2 linked regions of the Homo sapiens genome follow. The protein of the gene in region 2 purifies or fractionates together with the protein of the main gene of each other region. This does not show direct contact. Each region holds a gene or a part of one and is shown on either strand. Other genes may lie near its edges.

The links. The genes of interacting proteins can lie anywhere in the genome.
Region 1: the proteins of TRMT9B (region 2) and RUFY3 purify together in Homo sapiens (affinity purification with mass spectrometry; 3 studies listed by BioGRID and IntAct, with this or other methods). This does not show direct contact.

Annotation. Positions count from the first base shown.
Region 1 is NC_000004.12:70,724,959-70,731,985, reverse strand, and holds part of RUFY3 (protein RUFY3), read right to left. Parts: intron 1-7,027. UniProt on the Homo sapiens protein: ARL8 effector that promotes the coupling of endolysosomes to dynein-dynactin for retrograde transport along microtubules. Acts by binding both GTP-bound ARL8 and dynein-dynactin.
Region 2 is NC_000008.11:12,948,670-12,955,696, forward strand, and holds part of TRMT9B (probable tRNA methyltransferase 9B), read left to right. Parts: intron 1-7,027. UniProt on the Homo sapiens protein: May modify wobble uridines in specific arginine and glutamic acid tRNAs. Acts as a tumor suppressor by promoting the expression of LIN9.

The DNA.
Region 1 (7,027 bases), on a different chromosome or scaffold from region 2:
AAAAAATCATCCAAAGAAGGGCATGAGAATGCTTGGCTAAAAGAATAATGATTACCTGTAGCTACTATTTCAAACAATCCATAATCGTGAACATTACTGCTATCACAAACTGCTTTTCAGGCTAAGTGCGGTGGCTCATGCCTGTAATCCCAGTACTTTCAGAGGCTGAGGCGGGTGATCGCTTGAGCCCAAGAGTTCAAGACCAGCCTGGCCAACATGGCAAAACCCTGTCTGCACTAAAAATACAAAAATTAGCCGGGCATGGTGGTGCACATTTATAGTCCCAGCTACTCAGGAGGCTGAGGCAGGAGAATCACTTGAACCTGGGAGGCAGAGGTTGCAGTGAGCCGAGACTGCGCCACTGCACTCCAGACTGGGCAACAGAACGAAACTCTGTCTCAAAACAAAAACAAAACAAAACTGCTTTTCTTATTGCTTTTGTACATCTGCTTCAGAAAGCTAAATTTAGCATATAGAGGTGTCACTTGCCAGCCAGGTCAGTTTCAGCAGTGTACTATTTTTGCTGTTTGGTAGTATATGCACGATTATGTAAATATTTTCATTTACTTTATAAAAGTGAGTGAAAAGAGGAAAAAGAAAACATGTGGACAAAAAACTCAGTCTCCACTTTAAAAGATGGCAATCACTGGCCAGGCTTGGTGGCTCACGCCTGTAATCCCAGCACTTTGGGAGGCCAAGGTGGACAGATCACCTGAGGTCAAGAGTTCAAGACAAGCCTAGGCCAACATGATGAAACCCCTTCTTTACTAAAGTACAAAAATTAGCCGGGCATGGTGGCGGGCACCTGTAATCCCAGCTACTCAGGAGCCTAAGGCAGGAGAATTGTTTGAACCCAGGAGGCGGAGGTTGCAGTGAGCCGAAATCGCGCAGCTGCACTCCAGCCTGGACAAGAGCGAGACTCCGTCTCAAAAAAAAAAAAAAAAAGATGGCAATCACCAAGCATGTCCCAGCTGGGATGCTTTTGGCCTTATCTGCATGCTGACTGTACTTAAGCTGCCAATGCTGTGTTCAATTGTGTATAAAACTTCTGCAAATATGTCATCAGAGACTGGGAAGAAGACTCCTCTTATTACACGCAGGCCTATTGTTGGACTTACACTCTAGAATTCTGGGACAGGAGTGTTGTGTATGGGTTGAACCATTGGTAGTCTGAGTTTGAATCCTGCCTCTACCGGTTATTACACCCTTGAATGTCAGCTTATTTTACTTTTTTTAATTTTTGAGATGGAGTTTCACTCTTGTCGCCCAGGCTGGAGTGAGTGCGGTGGTGCAATCTCGGCTCACTGCAACCTCTGTCTCCCAGGTTCAAGTGATTCTCCTGCCTCAGTCTCCCAAGTAGTTGGGATTACAGGCACCTGCCACCACGCCCAGCTAATCTTTTTTTTTTTTTTTGTATTTTTAGTACACCATGTTGGCCAGGCTAGTCTTGAACTCCTGACCTCAGGTGATCCACCCGCCTCAGCCTCCCAAAGTGCTGGGATTACAAGTGTGAGCCACCGCGCCTGGCCAAATGTCAGTTTATTTGTAAATTGGGGGTAATAGTTGTACCTAGGCTCAAAAGGTTGTTGTAAAAATTAAATGAGAGAATACATTTTTAACACTTGGAGTAAATAATTCCTAGCGGAAAGTAACTAATCAGGCCAGATGTATATTTTATTGCATTCAACTGATCATCTGTGCATCACCTCTCAATGTCAGACTCCTTATCCCTAAAAGAAGGTTAATAGAAAAGCACATATTTTGGCTGGGTGCAGTGGCTCACGCTTGTAATCCCAGCACTTTGGGAGGCCGAGGCAGGTTCAAGGAGTTCAAGACTAGCCTGGCCAACATGGTGAAAACCTGTCTCTACTAAAAATACAGAAATTAGCCAGAAATGGTGGTGGGTGCCTGTAATCCCAGCTATTTGGGAGGCTGAGGCAGGAGAATCGCTTGAACTGGGGAGGCAGGGGTTGTAGTGAACCAAGATTGCGCCACTGTGTTCCAGCCTGGGTGACAAGAGCGAGACTCCATCTCAAAAAAAAAAAAAAAACGAAAGAAACAAAAATGCATATTCCTGGATAACTGATAACTTGTGGATTTTTAATCAATTATTTTCTTATTTATAGAGGTCCAAGAAAGGACAATGCTAAAACTTGAGTTTAAGCTACTACTAATGTTCATCTTTAGTCTGATAAATAACTTGTTCAGACTACTCTATAAAGATAGATATAAAAATAGAAATATAAAATAAAATGGCAATGTATTGAAGAATCCGGCTTAAACTGCTGTGGCTTCAGCTACTGCTTCATGAATAACTACTAATATAAATAGCTACCATTTATAGGGTGCTTTACATTAAGTATCTCATTTAATCCTCCTAACCTCTGAAGTAGTTACCGTTAATATTCCCAGTTAAGAGGAGAGAAAAACTCAAGCATGATGGCTCACATCTATAATCCTAGCACTTTGGGAGACAGAGGTGGGCAGATCACTTGAGGTCAGGAGTTCGAGACCAGCCTGGCCAACATGGGGAAACCTCGTCTCTACTAAAAATACAAAAAATTAGCTGGGTGTGGTGGTATGCGCCTGTAATCCCAGCTACTCAGGAGGCTGAGGCAGGAGAATTGTGTGAACTCAGGAGGTGGAGGTTGCAGTGAGCTGAGATCGTGCCATTGCACTCCAGTCCAGGTGACACTGTGAGACTCTGTCTCAAAAAAAAACAAAAAAACTCAAGCATGAAGTGATCACTTGTGCAACGTCACATGACTACTGAGTACTGGGTAAGGAACTGAATCCAGGTCCAGGTCCAAGCCACAAAATCCATACTTTTAACCACTATCCTATATTATCTCTAAATTAATGACCATCACAGTAGCTAAAACACGAATTGCCAAATCAACCCCATTATTGTACTAATTCCTTTACTGTTCTCAAATATACCCCATATTGACAGCAATAAAGTTTTCCATTGACTAATTTATCCACCCAACTCTAAAGAGACTCATTAGGTATCCAGCAGATTTCTTCAGTCATTTTGAATTCTGTGTCAAAATTCTACTTAGAAATTTCCAAATCTCAAGGCCTCATTTAAAAAAAAAAAAAAAGAAATATCCAAATCTCCACAACAAATTTCCTTTTGTAATCGGAAAAAAGTCTTATTTAAAAAAATCCAACTTAGCTTCACTTTGAAAAGCACACAAAAATTATTTTAAATTGCGATTTTTAACTTGCCTGCCACTCAAACCATATAAATATCCGAAAAATGATAACAGAGAGTAGGAATGTGGAAGAAAAAAGAAAATAGACCAAAAGCTGGACATTTAGTTTAAGAACAAGGAATTGGACTTAGATCACAAATTATATTTTAAAAAAATCTGTCTGAAACACTTTACAGAGTAAAGGCAGTATATGCAAAATAACATTTTCTTTTTTGAAATATGATACTACTGCTGTCTTTTAGGCTAATTTCAATTCACAGACAGTCCCTGGCTTATGAGGGTTCAACTTCCGATATTTCAACTTTACAACGATGAGAAAGTGATATGTGTTCAGTAGAAACCCTACTTCAAATTTTGAATTTTGATTTTTTCCCGAGCTAGCAATACGCCAGGTGATCCTCTCTCACGATGCTGCGCAGCGGCAGCAAGCCGCAGCTCCCAGTCAGCCACACCATCCTAGTCAGCCACACGATCAGCCACAGATCAGGGTAAACAACCAATACGCTACAGGGTACTGTGCTGCCAGATGATTTTGCGCAACTGTTGGCTAATTTAAGTCTTCTAAGCATGTTTAAGGCAAGAGAGGCTAAGCTACTTAAGCTATTAAGTTCAGTAGAGTAGGTGTGTTAAGTGAATTTTCATTTTATGGTATTTTCAACTTAGGATGAGTTTCTCAGGACATAACCCCATCTTAATTCAAGGGGTATCTGTAGTCACTTGAGACAACAAATGAGTCAGGATTTCATTCTTTAAAAATCCTCTTTAAAGTGTAAAAATTTTTATTAACATATACATTTCTAATTAGGTAAACTTATTAAGGGTAAACGTGTTATAAACTGAGTCATAGCTATAGTTGGTTTTGTTGTTAAACACTCAATAATACTGAAGGTAATACTATCCCTGCCCTTCACGTATGTGGACATGCGTATACATAACATGTATTGGTGAATTTCTTTAAAAAAATCTTTTTTTTTTTTTTTGAGACAGAGTTTCTCTCTTGTTGCCCAGGCTGGAGTGCAGTGGCACGATCTCGGCTCACCGCAACCCCTGCCTCCTGGGTTCAAGCGATTCTCCTGCCTCAGCCTCCCGAGTAGCTGGGATTACAGGCACCCGCCACCACGCCCAGCTAATTTTTTGTAATCCCAGCACTTTGGGAGGGCAAGGTGGGTGGATCGCCTGAGGTCAGGAGTTCAAGACCAGCCTGGCCAACATGGTGAAACCCCGTCTCTACTAAAAATACAAAAATTACCCAGGCGTGGTGGCGTCTGCCTGTAATCCCAGTTACTAGGGAGGCTGAGGCAGGAGAGTCGCTTGAACCTGGGAGGCAGAGGTTTCAGCGAGCTGGGAACTCGCCACTGCACTCCAGCCTGGGCAACAGAGTGAGACTCTGTCTCAAAAAAAAAAAAAAAAAAAGTTATTACTTTCCTGATCCTAGAATTATATGTAACTTGTTTTGAGAATGTTACTCCAAGAAATTCAGATACATATGAGCATGTGACTTAAAAAAAATCGCAAAAATAAAATATACCACTTCATCTCAGTAATAACACCATTTCTGAAATTAATATAATGATGCTTAAAGGTCTAACTGAAGCGTTCTGCTTCCATTCTTGAAAAAAACAGAGAACACATGTTCTCTAAAATTTTCATGGTGCTTTAAAAGTTCCTTTACTTTGAAATTCCACTTACTTCCAACATTGCTTCGGTTAAAAAAAAAAAAAAAAAAAAGGAAAGAAATCCCACTACGCTTTCACAAAGTAAAACAAACAAACAAACAAAAGTCTGAGAGGTTATTTCAATGGTGGTACATGTTTCCCTAAATTAAGAAAATGCAAAATGAATTTTCTATAAACAAGGCTGCTCCTCTAGCACTGACATGGCACAAGCAAAGTAAGAAAGTAAGCCACATTCTCACATCTCTGAATGTCCATTTAAGTCTCACTCCTTTTATCTTCACCCCCGCCTTTCCATGTGAGGATTCCAACTCTTAATGTAAATTAGGGTACAGACTTAAGCCAGGATATGTAATCTGGAAAAGTATAAATCTGATTAATGCTTCTGTGGGGCGGGTAGAAGGCTCAACTGAAAGAGTAATGGGCGGGGCACGGTGGCTCACGCCTGTAATCCCAGCACTCTGGGAAGCTGAGGCGGGCGATCACCTGAGGTCGGGAGTTCGAGACCAGCCTGACCAACATGGAGAAACCCTGTCTCTGCTAAAAATACAAAATTAGCTGGGCGTGGTGGCGCATGCCTGTAATCCCAGCTACTTGGGGAGTCTGGAGAGTCTGAGTTAAGGAGAATTGCTTGAACCTGGGAGGTGGAGGTTGCAGTGAACTGAGATAGCGCCATTGCACTCCAGCCTGGGCAATAAGAGCGAAACTGTCTCAAAAAAAAGAAAAAAAAGAGTGATGGTAGTGCTTTTGTTAGTCACAATCTATTAAGCATCAACAACTCAAATGTTCTCTTCCTTCTATATTCCCTACTGGTAAAGGGAACCTAGCTTCTGCAGCCAGAAGTTGGAGAGTCATCCCAGGCACTGCCTTATGTTCATTCTCCAGCCACCCAGCCCCTCAGTCATCGGGTACATTCTGCTTTTCCAGGGATTGTTCCTTTGGTGTTCACTCTTGCTACCTTAATGTGAGATTGTCATCTCTTACCCAGACCATTTTAAAAGTTATAGTTAGGGGTCCCTGAGAGCTTATATCCTTCTGATCCATTCACTACACTGTTGCCAGAGTGATCATTCCAAACACAAATCTTATTTTATGTTACTCCCAGACATAAAGCACCAGTAGCTTTTCACTACAGAATCAAGTGCAGGCTTTTCAGTATGAATAAGATTTCTACAGTCAAGCCCCTGCTTATCTTTCCAGTCTTGCTCCCTGTTGTGCCAAACAGAAGCCCTCTGTGCTCCTGTTGCTATTCCCTGGCTGGGCCAGCTCACTGTGTACTGTTTGAAATGCCCTCCCTATGTCGGTCTGGTGATCACCTGTTTATCTCTTAAGGTCTCACTTAATGAAGCCTCTCCTGACCCTTCTCCTGTGGAGTCAATCACAGGCTCTTGCCTTTAGGGGAAATCTATTTGCAATTAAACTTGTTGTAGATTTGCTGTTGGCTTTTGAAAATAAGAGTATATAAGCCGGGCATGGTGGCTCACACCTGTAATCCCAGCACTTTGGGAGGTCAAGGAGGGTGTATCACCTGAGGTTGGGAGTTCGAGACCAGCCTGATCAACATGCAAAAACCCCGTCTCTACTAAAAATACAAAAATTAGCTGGGTGTGGTGGCGCATGCCTGTAATCCCAGCTATTTGGGAGGCTGAGGCAGGAGAATCGCTTGAACCCGGTAGGCAGAGTTTTCAGTGAGCCAAGATTGCGCCATTGCACTCCAGCCTGGGCAATAAGAACAAAACTCTGTCTCAAAAAAAAAAAAAAGAGTATATAAGACAAAAGAGAGATAATCCCTCATTGACCACCAATAAGCATTGAGATAATGAAGTGAATGCTTTTATTTTCATTTATTTAAGGGTTAAAGTAGGCAGAAACTCTAGGTCCAGGCCTATACTGCGGACTGCTCAGTGAAGGGCCAGGAACTCTGGTTTTAAGAAAATAAAATATGGAAGCCACAGAGCCTCTATTGCTGAGTACACACAGTCAGTCTACATCATTTTAAGAGGGAACATTATGCTGTTTGCCTATTTTCTTTTGTGGGAGTGAGGAGACTTCACTCTAGGATTTGGGTGGTCAGATGTTTTTCCCTCTGTGAATCAGCCCGGAAAGCAGTCTGAATACTCCCGCGTCCAGACATCA
Region 2 (7,027 bases):
AAAACAGAAGGCCAGGCACGGTGGCTCATGCCTGTAATCCCAGCACTTTGGGAGGCCAAGGCGGGTGGATCACGAGGTCAGGAGATCGAGACCATTCTGGCTAACACGGTGAAACCTCATCTCTACTAAAAATACAAAAACTTAGCCGGGCATGGTGGCAGGCGCCTGTAGTCCCCGCTACTTGGGAGGCTGAGGCAGGAGAATGGCGTGAACCTGGGAGGCGGAGCTTGCAGTGAGCCGAGATCGCACCACTGCACTCCAGCCTGGGTGACAGGGCAAGACTCCGTTTCAAAAACAAACAAACAAAAAACCAGAAAAACACGTGTTCAACGTTTCATAGTTGTCTAATTTCTGTTGAGACTATGGCCAACACACTTTATAATTCTTCCTCAGAGAAAACGTATTGTTTCTACATAGACTCTACTTATTAATAACAATCTTATGTGTGGCATCACTGGCCTGTTTGTATTGTTTTCTTTTTCTTTTCTTTCTTTCTTTTTTTATATACAAAAATCTCCATTCTAAGAACTCAAGTTAGGAAATGCCATAGGATTGGTTATGACTACCGAGAGTAAAAATCCACTGAAATTTTAAAAAACTGAAAAACGTTAAACCTCACAAATAATGAGAAAATAATGCAATAAACCCCCATGTGTACACCCAGCATCAGCAACTGTCAATATTTTGACAGTCATTTTTTATCCTTTCCTCCTTTTTGCTGAGATGTGAAAGTGAAATTCTCTGGTACAAAAATAACATAAATGGCTTAAAAGTCTAGCTATGTTTCTCTGGTGTACAAATTTTCTTTACAGTACATTTTTCTTTCCTTTCCCACAACCATTACCCAAATTCTACTGGTGGTCACTGAAATGCCGCTTATGATGGCCTCAACTAGAAAAATCTCTTTATTTTTCTACCTGCCTCCAAACAAGAAAGAAGTTGGTAACTCATGTCATAGTTCACAAGTCTCTAGGGATTCTACATGTCTGCTTCAAGCCGTCAGTGAACTTTCAGAAAACAAATGCAAATATTTTACATTTGTTTATTATATAAGGGGGTTTCAAAGCTTCTATCAACATTTTCATAGGGGCCTATTACCTACAAAAGGTTAAGAATCTCTGCCTCTATTATGTCTTGAAAGCATATCAAATATACTTTCTCACTTCCACTCCCTAGTTAATTCTATTTATTTATTTACTTATTTTGAGATAGGTTCTCTGTCACCCAGGCTGGAATGCAGTGGTGCAAGCACAGCTCACTGCAACTTCAAGCTTCTGGGCTCAAGTGACCCTCCTGCCTCAACCTCCTGAATGGCTGGGATCATAGGCATGCACCACCACGCCCAGCTAATGTTTTGTATTTCTTTCAGAAATGAGGTTTCACTATGTTGCCCAAGCTGGTCTCAAACTCCTGGCCTCAAGCGATCCTCCCACCTCAGCCTCCCAAACTGCTGGAATAACAGGCATGAGCCACCTCACCTAGTCCTTAGCCAATTTTTTATATCTAAATCAGACATTGGACACCACTTCCAGGATGCCTTCCCTGACAATGTCACCTATAACTGATTTCCCTTATGTTTTCCTACAAAAGTTAAGGTAGGTTACTTTCCTGTTTATCACAGTCTTTCAATCACTGGACGAGTATTTATCAGGTCCTACTATTTGCCAGGCACTATCCTATACTTTAGGTATGCTTTGTCTCCTAATGCACTGTTAGAAGAGGACAAGGAACATCACAGTATCCAATACGTCTTCTGTGTCCGAAGACATATTGTAGTTGTAGCTCCAGTGAATGGAAGCAAGGATGAGCTGCTGCATTTCTGTAGCTGGCATTCAGCTCAAGAATACGTAAAACCAGACTCGTGGTTTTTTCTTTCTTTCTTTCTTTCTTTCTTTTTGAATGTGAGGCCTTTACAGAAAAAGAAAATGTCAGTCTGATTATCCAGGGCATGAGGATAAAGAGAAGCCCAAACAAAGGTTTCCCCCACTCCACCCCACCCAATATACTGTGGCACTAGAAAACGATTCCAGAATCAGAAACTATATGCTGACGTCCATTAGCCCTCTTAGTAGCACCTGAAATAGACCAGCGTCTATGTGAGACCTGTAGTTGTGTCCTCACAAATAACCTGTTATAGACCAGCGTCTATGTGAGACCTGTAGTTGGGTCCCCATAAATAACCTGAACTGGAAACAACAGCTCGACATGAACTCTGCCCCCTACGCTGGGGATCAGGAGCACGAACCTCTATACAAAGGGCGGCAGAGCGGTTACTAAATGTGCTCATTTTTCGTCACTAAGAACGTGCATTTTTAAAGTGCATAGATCCCTGATGATAACGGAGTTGTTTGATAATAGGCGGTTGAAGATACTATTACGTTAGGGACCTGGAAGAAAGTAGTTAACGCTATTGTCATAGAAGCAATGGGGGGAGGAAAGGTTTGTGTCCAGTTTTGGGCAAAAACTTCTAAGTTCCACCCCGCCTTCTGATGGATGCTTTTTTGATGGGGCTCGTTTTGCAAAACTCAGCAGATTAGGCATGTTGTGTAGTGGAATGATTTGGAGCGTCTAAGCCGTGGCACCCTACTTAACCCCCCCATCTCCAGTTATCCCAATGAACCGACCCCGAGGGGGCATTTCCGCTGAAGTCCGGGGCTGTAAAAAATTAAGTGAGAAGAGCCGCGCTAAAGCCAAGCGTCGTCGTCACCCAAGGTACTGCGCTGATGCGCTGCGGGCCGACCAGGTGCTCCCGCCGGGGCGTCTTCTCCTACGCAGGAAGGGCCACGCCGAGAGAGGCAGGCAACAAGGGCACGGCTGGAGGCCGGAAGGTCACCCCGTCCCCGGCGGGGCGGGCGCGGCCCAGCCTCACTTCCCGGGCACGTTCGGGCGGGGCGATTGCAGGGAACGGGGCGGGGAGGCGACAGTCCCCGGCTCCGCCGCGCGCCAGCCCGCCTTCGCTGCCCGGAGGCGCCGCAGGCCTGGGTTCCCGGACAGCTGAGCCCGAGCGCCGCCTCCCGAAAGGTGAAGGCGGCCCGGGGAGGCGGGGACGGTGACGGGGGCGGGGGCCGCGGGCGGTCTCCCGACGGCTGTCGCGGGGCCAGCCCAAAGCCCCCGATCCCCGGTAGCTGCGCTTCCCGCGCGGGGCGCCGGAGTAGGGCGGGCCAAGCTGGCCTGCGGCCGCGGCGGGAAGAAGGGCTAGCGAAGCACCCCCGACCGGGCCCAGGCGCCGGACGCCGGGGGGCGCCTCGCTGCAACTTCTCTTTGGAAGCCCCGACACGAGCCCCGGCCCGCGCGCGCGCTCCCCCACGGCCACGCGCGCACCCTGCCGCCCGCACCCCCGCGCGCCCTCCGTCTATTTTTTCCTCTTCCTTTCATCCTCACACTCTAAAATAGGTCAAGGGGTGGAAGTTACACCTGGTGCAGCCCTCGGCTCTGATGCAAAAGCAGCTTTTGCCCCTGGCTGCGGGACAGCGCTGTGACTACTCGCAACGGGAGAGCTGCTGCCAGTCGCCACACCGTGCGGAAAGCGCCGGCGACCGGAGCACTGACAATGGTCTGCATAGGGGAGCGGAGAGAAGCTTCTGTTGCGCCCTAGATCCGCTGCCTCGGCGCCCGCCCGCAGGGAGGAGGGGGCGCGACAGGTCGTCTAGCGCGTGCCCCGGAGCCCGCGCCCGGGTCTGGCCGCCTGGGTGAGTTCCTGCTCGTCCCCTGCCTTTCCAGTAGCCCGGGGTGGCTGTTTACCTTGCAAACAGCCTTGCAATACGATCAAAACAGGCGAGACAGCCATGCAGTAAGGGATTGCGGGATGTGCTTTGGGTGTGAGATTGGATAAATCAGAATTCAGAGATAAAGGACATGTCTAGTGCCTTAAGGGTTAAAGTGGATTCGTATTTTTTCATGGAGTGCACGTGTATCTTTCCCTGGGGAACTGATTTTTAATTAGTAAGAGGCAAAGAACTAAGATAACTTGAAGCCAGAAAGTTTTCAAAGCTCACGATGAAAATACAGTTTAAGAAGGAATGCCAAAATAGGAAGGTAAGGATTTGTATGATATTACTTGCTATGTGTGGGGTTTTTTTTGTTGTTGTTTGACGGAGTCTCTCTCTGTCACCCAGGCTGGAGTGCAATGGCACGATCTCGGCTCACTGCAACCTCCGCCTCCCGGGTTCAAGCAATTCCCTTGCGTCAGTCTTCTGAGTAGCTGGGATTACAGGCAACCGTCACCATGCCTGGCTAATTTTTGTATTTTTACTAGAGACGGGGTTTCACCATGTTGGTCAGGCTGGTCTGGAACTCCTGACCTCGTGATCCGCCTGCCTCGGCCTCCCAAAGTGCTGGGATTACAGGCGTGAGCCACCGGGCCCGGCTGATTCTTTTTATAGTACTTGGGTTCTTTGTGATAAATGATGTGAGCCCACAATGCTCTATGTAGAAAGAAGATAAGGCTGTAAACGTCTACTTGCAGAGCTTTATGTTAGGTGGTAGGCATGAATTTAAATGTACATTGAAAATTTAGTGTGTAGAAAGAGCTAAAATATATCTATATTGTTTTCAGGTTAAGATTATTGGTAATACAGCTAACCATTGGCATTTCACCCTGTTTCAGCAATTAAAATTGCTATTATTCATGTGACATCAGCAAATGGAAGCCTTTATCTTTCTATTTTTTATTATTTATTTGTTTGTTTGTTTATGTTTGAGATGGAGCCTCACTCTATCGCCTAGGCTGGGGTGCAGTGGTGCGATCTTGGCTCAATACAACTTCCGTCTCCCGAGTTCAACCGATTCTCCTGCCTCAGCCTCCCCAGTAGCTGGGATTACAGGTGCAAACCACCATGCCCAGCTAATTTTTTTGTGTTTTTAGTAGAGAGGGGGATTTCACCTTGTTGGCCAGGCTGGTCTTGAACTCCTGACCTCAAATGATCCACCCACCTTGGAAGCCTTTATCTTTTAGCTAACGAATGGTTAACTTGTTTGAAGTTTGGGGAAGGGAGAGTTAGAACTTTCTCTGTCTTTGATGGCTGGCTGAGAATACAGGGTAAAGAACTGTCCAGTGTTGTGAGTGGTGCCTTAGAGTTGCTCATAGCAAGAAAATCACTTGGGAGGGTGGAAGTGGCTCTCAGATGGTCATTGGTTACCTATAACTTATTTAAAGAAGACCTTGAGAAGTTGGGACATATCTTGTCACTGAGGAAATTGTGCCAAAGAACTGCTGCTTTATTAACGCATTTGATCAGATTTGAAAAGAGAGCTCTGTATACACTCTTTTTCTAACTCCAAAGAAATTTTGTTTCTAGAAAGATTCAATTACCGTAATGATGTTCTTTGGAAATGTGCCTTTTTGCGTGTATATCTTAATATGGATAAAGTTCCAAGGTAGTTCAAAGGTTTTAATAAAATTTTACTTACCAGAGTGATGTGAAATTGGGAATACCCTGTGTGAATGGTTAACTCTACTTTAAATTGGAAGGTCAATGGGAGTGGGGATCTTCCCAGTAAATCTTAAATCTCTGTGTACGTGTATCTCTGACAGCGAAATCTTACTGGAGATTGCAGGGGTTGTAAAGAAGAGACCAGACCTTATAGTATTTCTGATACGCGGATATGTGAATGCTTAAATGCATTTCACTTGTAAAGAATTTATATGCTCCTTTAGAGAACTAGTCTCCAAAATTTGAAACACATTTATGAAGAAGGCTCTATCATTGCTTTGAAGAAGACACAAGCAAGACATATTTGGCACTATACAGGCTCATAATATTGAGAGCAAAATGCAATTAAATGCCTGTTTACTACATGTCACTGTTCTCATTTGTGTTTTTAAACAGGAATTGAGTGAAAGCTCTCATTGCGATTAAGCCCCTGGTATAATGCATTATTGAAATTAGGCTGTCAGCGCTTGTCTGTGCAATCTTATGTTTTTACTCGTAGATAAATTAGGAATTCTTCTGAAAAGAATGGCATGAAAGCATTAAGATAACTGGAGAATTCATTTAAGGACAGACTGAAGAGTGATGCCAAATGGCCATTTAAATGTCCTTCAGCTTTTGTGACTCACTTCTTTTGATGCCATAAAGAAAGTACCTTGCATAGAACTCCTAGCTGAGACATCTTCAAAAAGAGTTAACATCATTCATTTTGGATACTCACTTCTCATCCAGAGAAACTTCTAACCACTCAAAGAAGACATTTTAAGAGTTTGAACTAGATCACCTGGATTAAAAAGCCCAGCTCTGAGCCATTTCCTTGTCTGTGAAATGGAGATAATGACACCTCCCCAGGTGGCTGTGGGGAGCAAATGAATAGGTGTAAATGCTGAGTACACAGTTGGCACATTGTGAGCAGTCATAAAGAGGGGTTTATAATAAGAAGTAGGAGTGTGTTGACTAAATATCATCTCCTGGAGGCTGCAGAGAGGTTGCTGCCTAATAGACTCTAGAACTGAATATTTGGGTCACTGGTTTAATCCCCCATCTGGGTATACTGAATATACTGCTAGTATACTCCTATAGCATAGAGTATAGAATATGCTGTACTCTTAGTAATCAGTGTCCTTTGGGAGCCAGAGGCTGTCACACTTGCATCTTCTCCACCCTAGACAGGCCTTTGACTCAGCTAGGTTAAAGAAGTAACCTGTGGTTGTTTTTAGAGATGATGATGAGGTGGTAGGGGAAGGAGGGCACTTGAGGAGTTTGGTGTATGGTCCTCTTCACACATATGCGTGTTTTTATTCTCTTTGCCTTTCCCCGTTCCCTCCTATCCTCCCTTCTTTTCTCTCTAGGGGTCCCGATCATTATTTCCCAGCCTTTGTTAATATGTCTCGGCATCAACCCTAAGCCGTAAAGGGTTGTTAGTCCTGATTTGGGTAGTCCTGCAAGGTGCAGCCTATGAACTTCTTGTTCTTAAAGGTGTAACTGCGAATGTCAAATAGGCACAACCTTTGCCACTTCCATGGTTCTTCTGGGGTGTTACGTCCCATTTTGCTGTATCGAATGTGCTCATTTCTACCTTCTCTTTCTTCTCTGTT